Linked DNA regions of Homo sapiens: all the other regions are linked to region 2. Evidence: fine-mapped expression QTL. A gene starts in region 2. Each other region holds a variant in brackets. All regions are shown on one strand. Distances are from middle to middle.

Region 1 (5,222 bases), 860 kb before region 2:
GAGCAGAAAAACTGAAAAATCTAAAAATCAGAGCGCCTCTCCTCCTCAAAAGGAATGCAGCTCCTCACCAGCAACGGAACAAAGCTGGACGGAGAATGACTTTGACAAGTTGAGAGAAGAATGCTTCAGACAATCAAACTACTCCAAGCTAAAGGAGGAAGTTCGAACCAATGGCAAAGAAGTTAAAAACCTTGAAAAAACATTAGACGAATGGACAACTAGAATAACCAAAGCAGAGAAGTCCTTAAATGACCTGATGGAGCTGAAAACCAAGGCACCAGAACTACATGACGAATGCACAAGCCTCAGTAGCCAATTCAATCAACTGGAAGAAACGGTATCAGTGATTGAAGATCAAATGAATGAAATGAAGCGAGAAGAGTTTAGAGAAAAAAGAATAAAAAGAAACAAACAAAGCCTCCAAGAAATATGGGACTATGTGAAAAGACCAAATCTACAACTGATTGGTGTACCTGAAAGTGACAGGGAGAATGGAACCAAGTTGGAAAACACTCTGCAGGATATTATCCAGGAGAACTTCCCCAATCTAACAAGGCAGGCCAACATTCACATTCAGGAAATACAGAGAACGCCACAAAGATACTCCTCGAGAAGAGCAACTCCAAGACACATAATTGTCAGATTCACCAAAGTTGAAATGAAGGAAAAAATGCTAAGGGCAGCCAGAGAGAAAGGTCGGGTTACCCACAAAGGGAAGCCCGTCAGACTAACAGTGGATCTCTTGGCAGTAACTCTACAAGCCAGAAGAGAGTGGGGGCCAATATTCAACATTCTTAAAGAAAAGAATTTTCAACCCAGAATTTCATATCCAGCCAAACTAAGCTTCATAAGTGAAGGAGAAATAAAATCCTTTACAGACAAGCAAATGCTGAGAGATTTTGTCACCACCAGACCTGCCCTAAAAGAGCTCCTGAAGGAAGCACTAAACATGGAAAGGAATAACAGGTACCAACCACTGCAAAAACATGCCAAATTGGAAAGACCATCGAGGCTAGGAAGAAACTGCATCAACTAATGAGCAAAATAACCAGCTAACATCATAATGACAGGATCAAATTCACACATAACAGTATCAACCTTAAATGTAAATGGGCCAAATGCTCCAATTAAAAGACACAGACTGGCAAATTGGATAAAGAGTCAAGACCCATCAGTGTGCTGTATTCAGGAAACCCATCTCATGTGCAGAGACACACATAGGCTCAAAATAAAAGGATGGAGGAAGATCTACCAAGCAAATGGAAAACAAAAAAAGGCAGGGGTTGCAATCCTAGTCTCTGATAAAACAGACTTTAAACCAACAAAGATCAAAAGAGACAAAGAAGGCCATTACATAATGGTAAAGGGATCAATTCAACAAGAAGAGCTAACTATCCTAAATATATATGCACCCAATACAGGAGCACCCAGATTCATAAAGCAAGTCCTGAGTGACCTACAAAGAGGCTTAGACTCCCACACAATAATAATGGGAGACTTTAACACCCCACTGTCAACATTAGACAGATCAACGAGACAGAAAGTTAACAAGGATATCCAGGAATTGAACTCGGCTCTGCACCAAGCGGACCTAATAGACATCTACAGAACTCTCCACCCCAAATCAACAGAATATACATTTTTTTCAGCACCACACCACACCTATTCCAAAATTGACCACATAGTTGGAAGTAAAGCTCTCCTCAGCAAATGTAAAACAACAGAAATTGTAAAAAACTGTCTCTCAGACCACAGTGCAATCAAACTAGAACTCAGGATTAAGAACCTCACTCAAAACCGCTCAACTACATGGAAACTGAACAATCTGCTCCTGAATGACTACTGGGTACATAACGAAATGAAGGCAGAAATAAAGATGTTCTTTAAAACCAATGAGAACAAAGACACAACATACCAGAATCTCTGGGACACATTCAAAGCAGTGTGTAGAGGGAAATTTATAGCACTAAATGCCCACAAGACAAAGCAGGAAAGATCTAAAATTGACACCCTAACATCACAATTAAAATAACTAGAAAAGCAAGAGCAAACACATTCAAAAGCTAGCAGAAGGCAAGAAATAACTAAGATCAGAGCAGAACTGAAGGAAATAGAGACACAAAAAACCCTTCAAAAAATCAATGAATCCAGGAGGTGGTTTTTTGAAAAGATCAACAAAATTGATAGACCACTAGCAAGACTAATAAAGAAGAAAAGAGAGAAGAATCAAATAGACGCAATAAAAAATGATAAAGGGGATATCACCACCGATCCCACAGAAATACAAACTACCATCAGAGAACACTATAAACACCTCTACACAAATAAACTAGAAAATCTGGAAGAAATGGATAAATTCCTCGACACATAGACCCTCCCAAGACTAAACCAGGAATAAATTGAATCTCTGAATAGACCAATAATAGGCTCTGAAATTGAGGCAATAATTAATAGCTTACCAACCAAAAAAAGTCCAGGACCAGATGGATTCACAGCCGAATTCTACCAGAGGTACAAGGAGGAGCTGGTACCATTCCTTCTGAAACTATTCCAATCAACAGAAAAAGATGGAATTCTCCCTAACTCATTTTATGAGGCCAGCATCATCCTGATACCAAAGCCTGGCAGAGATACAACCAAAAAAGAGAATTTTAGAC[C/A]AATATCCTTGATGAACATTGATGCAAAAATCCTCAATAAAATACTGGCAAACCGAATCCAGCAGCACATCAAAAAGCTTACCCACCATGATCAAGTGGGCTTCATCCCTGGGATGCAAGGCTGGTTCAACATATGCAAATCAATAAATGTTATCCAGCATATAAACAGAACCAATGACAAAAACCACATGATTATCTCAATAGATGCAGAAAAGGCCTTTGACAAAATTCAACAGCCCTTCATGCTAAAATCTCTCAATAAATTAGGTATTGATGGGACGGATCTCAAAATAATAAGAGCTATTTATGACAAACCCACAGCCAATATCATACTGAATGGGCAAAAACTGGAAGCATTCCCTTTGAAAACTGGCACAAGACAGGGATGCCCTCTCTCACCACTCCTATTCAACATAGTGTTGGAAGTTCTGGCCAGGGCAATCAGGCAGAAGAAAGAAACAAAGAGTATTCAATTAGGAAAAGAGGAAGTCAAATTGTCCCTGTTTGCAGATGACATGATTGTGTATCTAGAAAACCCCATCGTCTCAGCCCAAAATCTCCTTAAGCTGATAAGCAACTCCAGCAAAGTCTCAGGATACAAAATCAATGTGCAAAAATCACAAGCATTCTTATACACCAATAACAGACAAACAGAGAGCCAAATCATGAGTGAACTCCCATTCACAATTGCTTCAAAGAGAATAAAATACCTAGGAATACAACTTGCAAGGGATGTGAAGGACCTCTTCAAGGAGAACTACAAACCACTGCTCAGTGAAATAAAAGGGGATACAAACAAATGGAAGAACATTCCATGCTCATGAATAGGAAGAATCAATATTGTGAAAACGGCCATACTGCCCAAGATAATTTATAGATTCAATGCCATCCCCATCAAGCTACCAATGACTTTCTCCACAGAATTGGAAAAAACTACTTCAAAGTTCATATGGAACCAAAAAAGAGCCCGCATTGCCAAGTCAATCCTAAGCCAAAAGAACAAAGCTGGAGGCATCATGCTACCTGACTTCAAACTATACTACAAGGCTACAGTAACCAAAACAGCATGGTACTGGTACCAAAACAGAGATATAGACCAATGGAACAGAACAGAGCCCTCAGAAATAATGCCACACATCTGCAACTATCTGATCTTTGACAAACCTGACAAAAACAAGAAATGGGGAAAGGGTTCCCTATCTAATAAATGGTGTGGGGAAAACTGGCTAGCCACATGGAGAAAGCTGAAACTGGATCCCTTCCTTACACCTTATACTAAAATTAATTAAAGATGGATTAAAGATTTAAATGTTAGACCTAAAACCATAAAAACCCTAGAAGAAAACCTAGGCAATACCATTCAGGACATAGGCATGGGTAAGGACTTCATGTCTAAAACACCAAAAGCAATGGCAACAGAAGCCTAAATTGACAAATGGGATCTAATTAAACCAAAGAGCTTCTGTACAGCAAAAGAAACTACCATCAGAGTGAACAGGCAACCTACAGAATGGGAGAAAATTTTTGTAATCTACTCATCTGACAAAGGGCTAATATCCAGAATCTAGAATGAACTCAAACAAATTTACAAGACAAAAACAAACAACCCCATCAAAAAGTGGGCGAAGGACATGAACAGACACTTCTCAAAAGAAGACATTTATGCAGCCAAAAGACACATGAGAAAATGCTCATCATTACTGGTCATCAGAGAAATGCAAATCAAAACCACAATGAGATACCATCTCACACCAGTTAGAATGGTGATCATTAAAAAGTCAGGAAACAACAGGTGCTGGAGAGGATGTGGAGAAATAGGAACACTTTTACACTGTTGGCGGGACTGTAAACTAGTTCAACCATTGTGGAAGTCAGTGTGGCGATTCCTCAGGGATCTAGAACTAGAAATACCATCTGACCCAGCCATCCCATTACTGGGTATATACCCAAAGGATTATAAATCATGCTGCTATAAAGACACATGCACACGTATGTTTATTGCGGCACTACTCACAATAACGAAGACTTGGAACCAACCCAAATGTCCAACAATGAGAGACTGGATTAAGAAAATGTGGTACATGTACACCATGGAATACTATGCAGCCATAAAAAAGGATGAGTTCATGTCCTTTGTAGGGACATGGATGAAGCTGGAAACCATCATTCTCAGTAAAGTATCGCAAGGACAGAAAACCAAACACCGCATGTTCTCACTCATAGGTGGGAATTGAACAATGAGAACACATGGACACAGGAAGCAGAACACCACACACTGGGGCATGTTGTTCGGTGGGGGGAGGGGGGAGCGATAGCATTAGGAGATATACCTAATGTAAATGATGAGTTACTGGGTGCAGCACACCAGCATGGCACATGTATACATGTGTAACTAACCTGCACATTGTGCACATGTACCCTAAAACTTAAAGTATAATTTAAAAAAAAGAAAAATACAAAAAAGAAAATGGAAATCAACCATAATTGTTACACTTAGAGATAGCTAAGGCTGGTTGCAGTGTCTCACGCCTGCAATCTCAGCACTTTGGGAGGCTGAGGCAGGCA
Region 2 (5,222 bases):
CCGAAGCGGGCAGATCACTTGAGGCCAGGGGTCTGAAACCAACCTGGCCAACAAGGAGAAACCCCATCTCTAGCCTGGGCGACACAGCAAGACTCTGTCTCAAAAAATAATAATAAATAAATAACCCTTCAAATCAACAACCTAACTTTACAACGTAAGGACTAAACCCAAAGCTAGCAGGAGAAAGGAAATAAAAAAGATCAAAGCACAAATAAAACAGAGACTAAGAAAATAGAAAAAATTTAATGAAACCAATTTTTTTTTCTTTTTGAGACAGGGTCTCAGTTTGTCACCCAGGCTGGAGTGTAGGGCACAAACATGGCTCACTGCAGCCTCAAGCAATCCTTCCGCCTCAGCCTTCCGAGTAGCTGAGACTACAGGTGCTCGCCATGTCTAGCTAATTGTTGTATTTTTGGCAGAGACGGGGTTTCCCCATGTTGCCCAGGCTTGTCCTGAACTCTTGAGCTCAAGTGATCCAGCTGCCTCGGCCTCCTAAAGTGCTGAGGTTACAGGCGTGAGCCACCTCCCCTAGCCAAAGCTGGTTCTTTATAAAAGGTCAACAAAACTAGCTATTAATAGATGGGCAGGGCATGGTGGTGTGCACCTGTAGTTCCAGCTACTCAAGAGGCTGAGAGGAAGGAGAGTCGCTTGAGCCCACGAGAGTTCGAGGCTGCAGTGAACTATGATTGCACCACTGCACTCCAGCCTGGGTGAAAGAGCAAGACCCTGCTTAAAAAAAAAAAGTACAATCAAGTTAAAGTGGAGTCATTAATACCGCTTCTACAGAAATAAAAAGAGTGACAGTGTACTATGAATAACTGCATGCCAACAAATGGACTAACCTACAAGAAATGGATAAATTCCTAGAAACAGAAAGCCTCACAAAACTTAATCAGGACAAGAAAATCTGAATAGACCTACAACTAACTAGTAAGGAGACTAAAGCAGTAATAAAAAAAACGCCCAATAAATAAAAGCCTCATTCGTAATTACTGCCAAACATTTAAAGAAAAATTAACAACAGTCTTCTTCAAACTCCTCAAAAAAAAATTTTTTTTTCTCTACAAGGTCTCGCTTCCTCTGTTCCCCAGGCCGTAGTGGCACAATCTTAGTTCACTGCAAACTCTGTCCCCCGCGTAGCTGGGACTACAGGCACGTGCCACCACGCCCAGCTAATTTTTGTAACATTCTGCACAGGGGATTGCCATCTTGCCCAGGCTGATCTCGAACTTTCTAGGCTCACACGATCCGCCTGCTTTGGCCTCTCAAAGTCCTGGGATTACAGGTTGGAGCCACCACGCCCGACCTCTCCAAAAAATTTAAGGTGGAACACTTTGAAACTCATCCTATGAAGCCAGCATTACACTTTTGATACCAAAAGCAAATACTACAACAAAACTATAGACCAGGCCAGGCGCGGTGGCTCACGCCTGTAATCCCAGCACTTTGGGAGGCCGAGGCGGGCGGATCACGAGGTCAGGAGATCGAGACCATCCTGGCTAACACGGGGAAACCCCGTCTCCACTAAAAAACAGAAAAAATTAGCCAGGCGTGGTGGCGGGCGCCTGCAGTCCCAGCTACTCCGGAGGCTGAGGCAGGAGAATGGCGTGAACCCAGGAGGCGGAGCTTGTAGTGAGCCAAAATCGTGCCACTGCACTCCAGCCTGGGCGACAGTGATACTTCGTCTCAAAACAAAAAAAGAAAAAAAAAACAAAAAAAACCTGTAGACCAATATCCCTTATACTGATGCAAAAACCATCAACCGCATACTAGCAAATTCAACAGCTCATTTTTGTTCCAATTCGTACTCAATTCCCGGTTTCTTTTACTTTATTTTTTTAGAGACAGGGTCTCACTGTTTGCCAAGCTGAATGCGAACTCCTGGGCTCAAGCGATCCTCCCTCCTCAGGCCCCACGTACTGAGACTGCAGGCGTGAGCCACCGCCCTCAGCTGGGTTTAACTTTTTTTTCTTTGAGGCACGGTCTCGCTCTTGCCCAGGCTGGAGTGCGGTGGCGCAATCTCAGTTCACTGTAACCTGAGCCTCTCAGCCTCCCGCGTAGCTGGGACTACAGGCACGTGCCACCACGCCCAGCTAATTTTTGTAACATTTTGTACAGAGGTTCGCCATCTTGCCCAGGCTGATCTCGAACTAGTTTCTAGGCTCACACGATCCGTCTGCCTCGGCCTCCCAAAGTGCTTGGGATTACAGGTGGCAGCCACTACACCCAGCCACTCCAAAAAATTTAAGATGGAACACTTTGAAACATCCTATGAAGCCAGCATTACACTTTGATACCAAAACCAAATACTACAATACAACTAGAGACCAATATCCCTCAAACTGATGCAAAAACCATCAACTGCATACCAGCAAACCCAACAGCACAAGCAAGCCTCCCGAATAGCTGGGAGTGCAGGTGTGCGCCCCCATGCCCGACTCATTTTTTATTTTTATTTTTTGGTAAGAGACGGGGTTTCGCCATGTTGCCCAGGCTGGAATTTTAATTGCTTTTTATCCTCACATCCTGGGTTAGAGTCGCTCATTCACCCTCGGGGATCCAGTACAACTGCTTACCAGGGAAGCCCTGCTCCCCGCTAAAATGAAAACCACAGCTAGCCCAATCTGATCCCAGTGACATTCTCCCGCCACCTCAGTCCAGTCTGGATCCTTTGTCTCCCAACTGGAGATCTTGGCGACCTCCAGAACTTTGGCCGTGGGTAAATTGAGGGGCGGGCTCCAGAACCCGCGGCTGACCAACCAACCGACCGACCCTTGGGTTGGCGGGAATAGTGCCTCGCTGCCATCTAGGGTGCTCGACCGGGCCCCAACAGCCCAAGACAGGGCATTACGACACAGCCCATTGTGCCTCTGAAGGCTCTCCCTTCACCACACGGCCTCATGGCCACCAGGCCTGAAGCCACCGGGCCCGTGGCCCTGCATGACCCAGACTTCAATGAGGAGAACTTACCCGGAGCTCGTGGAGCATGTGGCCCTGATGGAATGGATTCGCAAGCGGCTGGCCATATCTTGCAACACCTGCAAGGTGCCCCTGTCAGGTCTGGCCTCCTCCGGGAACTCAGCCCTCGCCTCAGCATCCGCCATTAGTCCAACCCCTTTGGAGTCTGAAGACCCACTCCTACGTCTCCGGCGTCTGAAGAGCGAATGGCGCCTGCGAGCTGCCCAGTGCGTTTATGTGATGTCGGTGCAGCTCCCTCCGCATGCCTCGTGCCACTCCCTCCACCTGCCGCTCCCTCCGCCGGCCGCTCCCTCCGCAAGCAAGTCAAGGGATCTGGAATGTTTGTGACTTGCATGTGCACAGTTATTGAAAATAGTCCCATTCTCATCTTCTCTCCTGCAATCTCAAAAGGGCTCCCTCCGCGCGGGTGCAGGGTCTTCTTTCTCTGCACAAAAAGTTCCGGCACTAGCTGTGTGGTGCCGCACGTGTCAGGGGGTGGTGCCGCACGTGTCAGGGGGTGGTGCCGCACGTGTCAGGGGGTGGTGCCGCACGTGTCAGGGGGTGGTGCCGCACGTGTCAGGGGGTGGTGCTGCACGTGGGACGTGCAGCTGCAACCGTAAAGGTGGGGGAGGGAGGGAGCTGCTGTGGCGCAATTTTTTGTTTCGTGATAAATGGTCACCCCTCCCCCACAACAGCCCAGGCTATGGCGGGCAGGGTGGGGGTGGGGCAGTGCTCAGGGTTCTGAGACGGTTGGCGCCTGCGCCAGCCTCCTTTCCTTTTTTAAAACATTCTATGAGGCAAGCCCCGTGTGATTGTTGAGGAGGAGTTAGCCCATTGCCAGCCTGTGACGTGACTGACTCGAATGAACCCTGGTAACTAGGGAATGTGCTCGCCCTGTGTCTGAAATGCCCCATGTCCGGTGGTGCCAGCACTAGCCCCCATGTCGGTCTCAGAGAACCTTCTCCCCACCTCTGAGGTGACCTACCGACCCAGAACTCGCATGGCTCCCAACGGCGCCAGCTCCACAGCGCCGTGCCCAAGTCCAGACATTCCGGATCCCAAGTGCTGTCTCTTGGTTCAAAAATGCCGAATTTCTACGTGAGCTCAAGTCAGGCCGCCTGGTCGCGCCACAGGCTGAATGCCCTTGGGTTCCCATGTTCTGCTGGGTTAAAGGGAATGTGTGTTTACATTTTTTTTTTTTTTGAGACGGAGTCTCGCCCTGTCGCCCAAGCTGGAGTGCAGTGGCTCGAACTTAGCTCGTTGCAACCTCTGCCTCCTGGCTTCAAGCGATTCTCCTGCCTCAGCCTCCTGAATAGCTGGGATTACAGGCATCCGCCACCACACCTGGCTAATTTTTTGTATTTTTAGTAGAGACGGGTTTTCACCATGTTGGCCAGGTTGGTCTCGAACTCCTGACCTCAGGTGATCTGCCCACCTCGGCCTCCCAAAGTGTTGGGATTACAGGTGTGAGCCACCATGCCAGGCGGTGGTGGGCACCTGTAATCCCAGCTAATGGGAATCTGAGGCAGGAGAATCACTTGAATCCGGGAAGCGGAGGTTGCAGTGAGCTGAGATGGCGCCACTGTACTCCAGCCTGGGCGACAGAGCAAGACTCCGTCTAAAAAAAAAAAAAAAGTGGCTGGGCACAGTGGCACACGCTCCTGTAATCCCAGCACTTTGGGAGGCCAAGGTGGGTGGATCACCTGAGGTCAGGAGTTCCTGACCAGCCTAACATGGAGACACCCCGTTTCTACTAAATACAAAAAAATTAGCTGGGTGTAGTGGCACATACCTGTACTCCCAGCTACTTGGGAGGCTGAGACAGGAGAATCGCTTGTACCTGGGAGGTCGAGGTTGCGGTGAGCCAAGATCGAGCCATTGCACTCCAGCCTGGGCAACAAGAGCAAAACTCTGTCTCAAGAAAAAAAATTTAACAGGCCACCTAATTGCGATTAAAAAAAAACCAAAACCCTGAATCTGTTTAGATTCCCACTTGCAGGGTATGTGACATCACCTTCTGCCACATTCTCGCCAGCCCTGGACATTGTTAGGCTTTTTAATTTTTGGCGTTCTGGTGGATGAGAAAATAGTATTTAATTGTTGCTTTTCGCTTACTATTCCCGGATCACCTTGCAATTACATGTTTTATTATACGTTTACTGTCTTTTGTTTTTCGTCGTCTGAGATGTCCGTGGCTACCCTTTAATGTCTTTATATTGGGTTATTTGCTCTTAGTTTACTGATTTGCAGTTCTTTATATATTG
Region 3 (5,222 bases), 23 kb before region 2:
GGCCCCTCTGCCCCTGCAACACTGCCGCGCCTCCTCTCTCTGGCCACCACCTGTGCCTCCAGCTTCACCCAGACAGCCGTGACTCTAGCTCCATCTAGAGCCATCTCGTCCAGCCTCATTCTCCCAGGGAGTCCCTGAGATGGCTTTCCAGCGTGCATCTCTGGCATTCTAGAAGCAAGTGTGTGCAGCCACATCTAGTAAGCCCATCTGCCTGCCACAGGCACGCCAGCTGGCTCATCTTTCCCATGTCATTTCTGTCATTCACGAAAATGACTCTCTGACGTTTCCCAAGTGAGGAATCCCGGAGACTCGTGTGTTTTGCTCTTCACGCCATTGCAGAGTGCTCCATCTGTTAGGCACACTCACCTCTTTCTTCACTCTCAGGTCCCCCCCCACCCCCCTGGTTTTCTCCCCCACCACCTTGCACACCTTGTTTCAATCCCCTCTCTGGCTTCCCGTTTCCTGTGGTTTCCTTCTAGCCCACCTGCCAGGTGACTACTACTCTGAGAAGGGTGTGTTTGTAAGAGTTCCTGCCTCGTGTCACGCTCCAGGGTTCTCGCTGCCCCAGGCAGGAAGGTGGTGATGGTGGTCCCAGCCCCCCTCCCACCTGAGCAGGCTGTGCAGCCAGCCAGAATGCTCCTCGTCCTCTGTGATGCTGTTCACCCTCAGTTAGACTGCAACCACAGCGAGGGCAGAAAAGGCTCCATGACTCTGCCAGTCCTGTCCATAACCTGCACGCAGCTCAACACACAAGGGGCACTCGGGATAAGCAACTGTTTCTCACTGTCTGAAACAACAGTACCACCGAGAGATGCACTTCAAAAGTTGCCCTGAGAGTCTGACACTTTTAAAGTACAATATGGCTTTTTCAAGAAAAAGGCTTGAATAATCAAACTTCATGGAACCATAAGGAAATTCGTGGTTTAACCAATCACATGCTAATCTTTCTCTGTGAAGGAGGAAGGCTACCAAGATGATGGCATTTAGAACCCTTACCAACAGATACCCCACAGTGGGAACCAATAATGTTGATGTTGCTCTCAGCGAGGCCTCCTATCCGGATGTGATCAAATGCTCGAGTCAGAAAGGCAGCAAAGGTGCTAGCAAAAGCAATGGTCCGTCCACGGGAGGCACAGCCCAGAGCCACGCTCACCTGCAGCACAGAGAACATGAATCAGAACATCCCTGGGCATTGCCCCCACCGCCCCTTCTCCCACAGTCCCCATGATAACTCCCATTCTGCACCTGCTGAACTGCTCTGAAGTTCTAGCATGCGTCCTTCCCACACCCCTCTTTCCTCAAACCCTGGGCACCCGTCCGTCCCTCCTGCTCAGACGGCGCCCTCAACTCATAGCTCCTAGGGAGCAAGAGATGAGACTCTCTTGCCTGCCCTCCTGGTGTCCGCAGCTTTCCAGGGTCCATGCCCCGACAGGACATCCTGAATCTGTCCTGTTCCTGCTTTCTCACAGGGGTCTCCAGCCATGCAGCTCCTCCTCCCCTCTTGTGCTACTTCCCTTTCTCTTGGATCATTCTATTTCCATTCAGGTGTGCGCCAGCACCTTTTATCTTCACAGCCCCATCTCCGCCTTGTCCTGCTTTTACATCTGTGTTCTCCTTCGCAGCAAACTTCTCAAAACTTGCCTATAGTCATTGCCCCTGCTTTCTCATTTTCCACGCTCTTCCCAGCCTACTTCATCTAGGCCACCATCCCCACAAGGGACCTCGAAGCCACAAAACCAAGAGGCTGCCTGACCTTGGGTGGCCTGTGACTTGACTTGGCCCCTGATCTCAAGGCATTTCCTCCTCTCGGTTTCTGCAGTGTGGCAGTGGCCCACTGCTGTCGCCTCATGGGCGCTGCTGGGGCAAGTCCTCAGGGCCCTGTGCACCCTCGGGAAGTCGCATCTGGCCCAATGCTCCCCTGATGTGCATTCTGGTAATGATCCCCACTTTACATTGCCATTCCTTACCCCCCTTCCCCAGAAGTCCGGGCTCAAATACCCCAGAAGGCTTCAAACTAGAATACAAACCTCTCTGCGGATACACACAGGCTTTCCAAAGGGGATGTGGCTGTGGGTGTTACACTCAAGATCCCAAACTCCAGATCAACTCTGTCTACATTCATCTGCCAAAAGGAGGGTCTGTGCTCCCCTCATGGTCTTTTTTTTTTTTTTTAGACAGGGTCTTGCTCTGTTGCCCAGGCTGGGGTGCACTGGTGCAATCTTGGCTCACTGCAACCTCCACCTCCTGGGTTCAAGCGATTCTCCTGTCTCTGCCTCCCGAGTAGCTGGGATTACAGGCACCCGCCACCACGTCTGGCTAATTTTTGTATTTTTAGTAG[G/C]GACGAGGTTTCACCATATTGGTCAGGCTGGTCTCGAACTGACAGGTGATCCACCCACCTCGGCCGGCCTCCCAAAGTTCTGGGATTACGGGCGTGAGCCACTGCCCCTGGGTCTCCCACTGTCTCTTTTAACAATCACCTTCTAGCAACCTGATCCCCAAAGGGCATGCTCTCAGCCACCTGACTCTTACAGGGGGATCATCCTGGAGTGCAGAACCTCCAGACCCAAGTAAAGAGGACAATTTGAAATAACTATGCTGGTGGAGAGAAAGTGAAGAACTTAATTAATGAAACTGTCAACTCTGTAAATAACTTTTATAAACAACTTTACATGAAAGATCACTATGTGATTTTTTGACTTACAACTGGGAAGGAATTCAAAGAACTGAGTGACATTCCTCTAACAAAACTTCCCTTCCCATCTACTTATTCATGTAAGTAAGGTTTCATAGCACATCATGAAGATGAAAAACAGGAATAGAATCTGTTCTCAATGCTATCACATTCAAACTACAAGTATACTCATCCACTAACATACCAGCTAATAATAATCAAAATTCTATCTCAGTCCAGAAAAAAAAACCTAATGCTCAGAAGCCTATATTATAATTTTTTAAAAACCTATCAATTTATATGCATATTTTTGTTGCAGAGAAAAATGATAGGACAATCAATAAAAGGCTTTCATGCATAAAGATATATTGGGGAAATGAATGGAATGGAAATTGGAAATCAAGTAGAAAAAGGGTTTTAATTTCTGACAAAGAAAAGTGGCTTGGCATGAATTTTTTTTTTTTAATTACAGACCAGGTCTCACTATGTTGTTCAGGCTGGTCTTGAACTTTTTTTTTTTTTTTTTTTTTTGAGACGGAGGCTCGCTCTGTCGCCCAGGCTGGACTGCAGTGGCGCAATCTCAGCTCACTGCAAGCTCTGCCTCCCGGGTTCACGCCATTCTCCTGCCTCAGCCTCCCGAGTAGCTGGGACTACAGGCACCCACCACCACGCCCGGCTAATTTTTTTTTTTTTTTGTATTTTTAGTAGAGAAGGGGTTTCACCATGTTAGCCAGGATGGTCTCCATCTCCTGACCTCGTGATCCGTCCGCCTCGGCCTCCCAAAGTGCTGGGATTACAGGCGTGAGCCACCGCACCCGGCCTGGTCTCGAACTCTTGAACTCCAGCAATCCTCCAGCTTCAGCCTCCCAAAGTGCCGGGATTACAGGTGTGAGCCACTATGCCCAGCCAGTGTCATCATTAATGGCATGATTTGAGTATTAAAGTATCAAAAATGTCAATATATGAACAACTACATCCTTTGCAACGACTTAAATTTATGATTAAAAATGTAGATGTGGCCAAGCATGGCGGCTCCCAGCTCCTCAAGAGGCCGAGGCCAGAGGACCCCTTGAGCCCAGGAGTTTGAGGCTGCAGGGAGCCATGATTGTGCCACTGCATTCCAGCCTGGGTGACAGAGCAAGACTCCATCTCTACAAAAAATAAAAATAAAAAAAAGATGTTAGCTTAAAACTAGGCCAACGAATATGTAGTTTAGAAAACTGCATTTAGTGGTGTGGAGCGGCCACATGTGAAAATGACTGACTGATCTACTGCCCAGCCATCTGATACCACTGTCTCCCCTCTGTACATCTAACAGGTGCCCCAACCCCCCAGGCCCACACAGAGCTCCTGATGGTGCCCTCCAGTCCACTTCTCCCCCAGTCTTGTCAATCTCAAGAGGTGACACCACCTTCCCCCAGGTGCTGCCACCCACACTCAAGCACCAGCCTTGGGTCCTGTCCTGACACCTGCCGTTGGCATCCTGCTGGCTCTCCTGCCAAGGCAATATGTGACAAGTCTGCTTCCCTCCGACTCCACAGCTACTGCCCTGGTCCAAGTCACCCTCTCCTTCTCCTCCCTTTCCTACGTGAAGCCATTCTCCAGTCTTCAGAGTTTTGGAAAACGCAGGCTGTTGCTTTCCTGCTTAAAGCCCTCCAGTGGCTTCCCAGCAAACTGCAAGAGAACCAGAGATACTGAAAAGGGCGCCTATAAGACCCCGTATGACCTGGGCCCTGGAGAGTTTTCTGCGTTCACCATGCTCCTACCACTTGGCCCTTCCTCTGCTCTCCAAACATTCCAAGCCTGGGCCTGCCTACAGTTGGCCATGCCCCTTGCTTGAAATGCTGTCTCCCACATCTGCACACGGCTGACCCCTCGTCACCTGAGACTCAGCTTAAGTATCACCTTTTCTGAGAGGTTGTCCCTGACTGCCCCTGGTCAAGCTCTACATTGTAGCCACCTCTTTCAACATGGCACTAAATACCACCTGCTCGCCTTTTCTTTACAACTTTTTTCCAACTGTGAGAACATATCAGCAGGGACGGAGTAGACTACATGGCTGCGTGCTGAGGCAATCAGTGAGGTGGGGAGCAAAATTTTTGACAGGAGCATTAATCCAGAAAATTACGGATCGCATTGTTTTCTATTCAAAATGAAAACAGCTTAATGAGCCAGGCTCGGGGGCTCACACCTGTAATCCCAGCACTTTGGGAGGCTGAGGCAGGCAGATCACCTGAGGTCAGGAGTTGGAGACCAGCCTGACCAACATGGTGAAACCCTGTCTCCACTAAAAACACAAAAATTAGCCAGGCATGGTGGCGCATGTCTGTAATCCCAGCTACCTGCGAGGCTGAGGCAAGGGAATCGCTTGAACCTGGGAGGCAGAGGTTGCAGTGAGCTGTGATCGTGCCACTGCACTCCAGCCTCGGTGAGAGAGAGAGAGAGACTCCATCTCAAAAAAAAAAAACCCCCAAAAAAAAACCAAAAACCACAAAACAACAAAAAACCCAAATGGCCCAGCAGAGCATGGGGAGCTGTGGGGACACCCATC

Alleles and levels. Alleles are on the strand shown, and positions count from the first base shown. SD is a standard deviation of normalised expression in the study named. Not every link is listed here.
With allele C in place of A in region 1, the expression in spinal cord of the gene that starts at base 3,169 in region 2 is higher (moderate effect, 0.50 SD a copy in GTEx).

What was found. PIP is the estimated chance that this variant, and not a neighbour inherited with it, causes the effect. A credible set is the group of variants that fine-mapping cannot tell apart.
Region 1: its variant is the best candidate, but not a certain one, in a credible set for the expression of TKTL1 in spinal cord (GTEx, PIP 0.66).
Region 3: its variant is the best candidate, but not a certain one, in a credible set for the expression of TKTL1 in T cells (TOPMed, PIP 0.86).

What each region holds. Positions count from the first base shown.
Region 1 is chrX:155,157,304-155,162,525 of GRCh38, reverse strand. No RefSeq gene overlaps it. Among named protein-coding and RNA genes, the nearest start is that of VBP1, 57 kb to the left of the region's middle. The variant C/A (reference allele first, on the strand shown) is at 2,658.
Region 2 is chrX:154,293,742-154,298,963 of GRCh38, reverse strand. TKTL1 (transketolase like 1) reads right to left here and starts at 3,169. Exons shown (of 13, transcript NM_012253.4): 1 at 2,971-3,169. The coding sequence starts at 3,104. TEX28 (testis expressed 28) reads left to right here and starts at 3,840. Exons shown (of 5, transcript NM_001586.3): 1 at 3,840-3,934. RefSeq lists an enhancer at 3,477-3,978.
Region 3 is chrX:154,316,688-154,321,909 of GRCh38, reverse strand. It overlaps TKTL1 (transketolase like 1), which reads right to left. Exons shown (of 13, transcript NM_012253.4): 8 at 997-1,153. Among named protein-coding and RNA genes, the nearest start is that of TKTL1, 24 kb to the right of the region's middle. The variant G/C (reference allele first, on the strand shown) is at 2,339.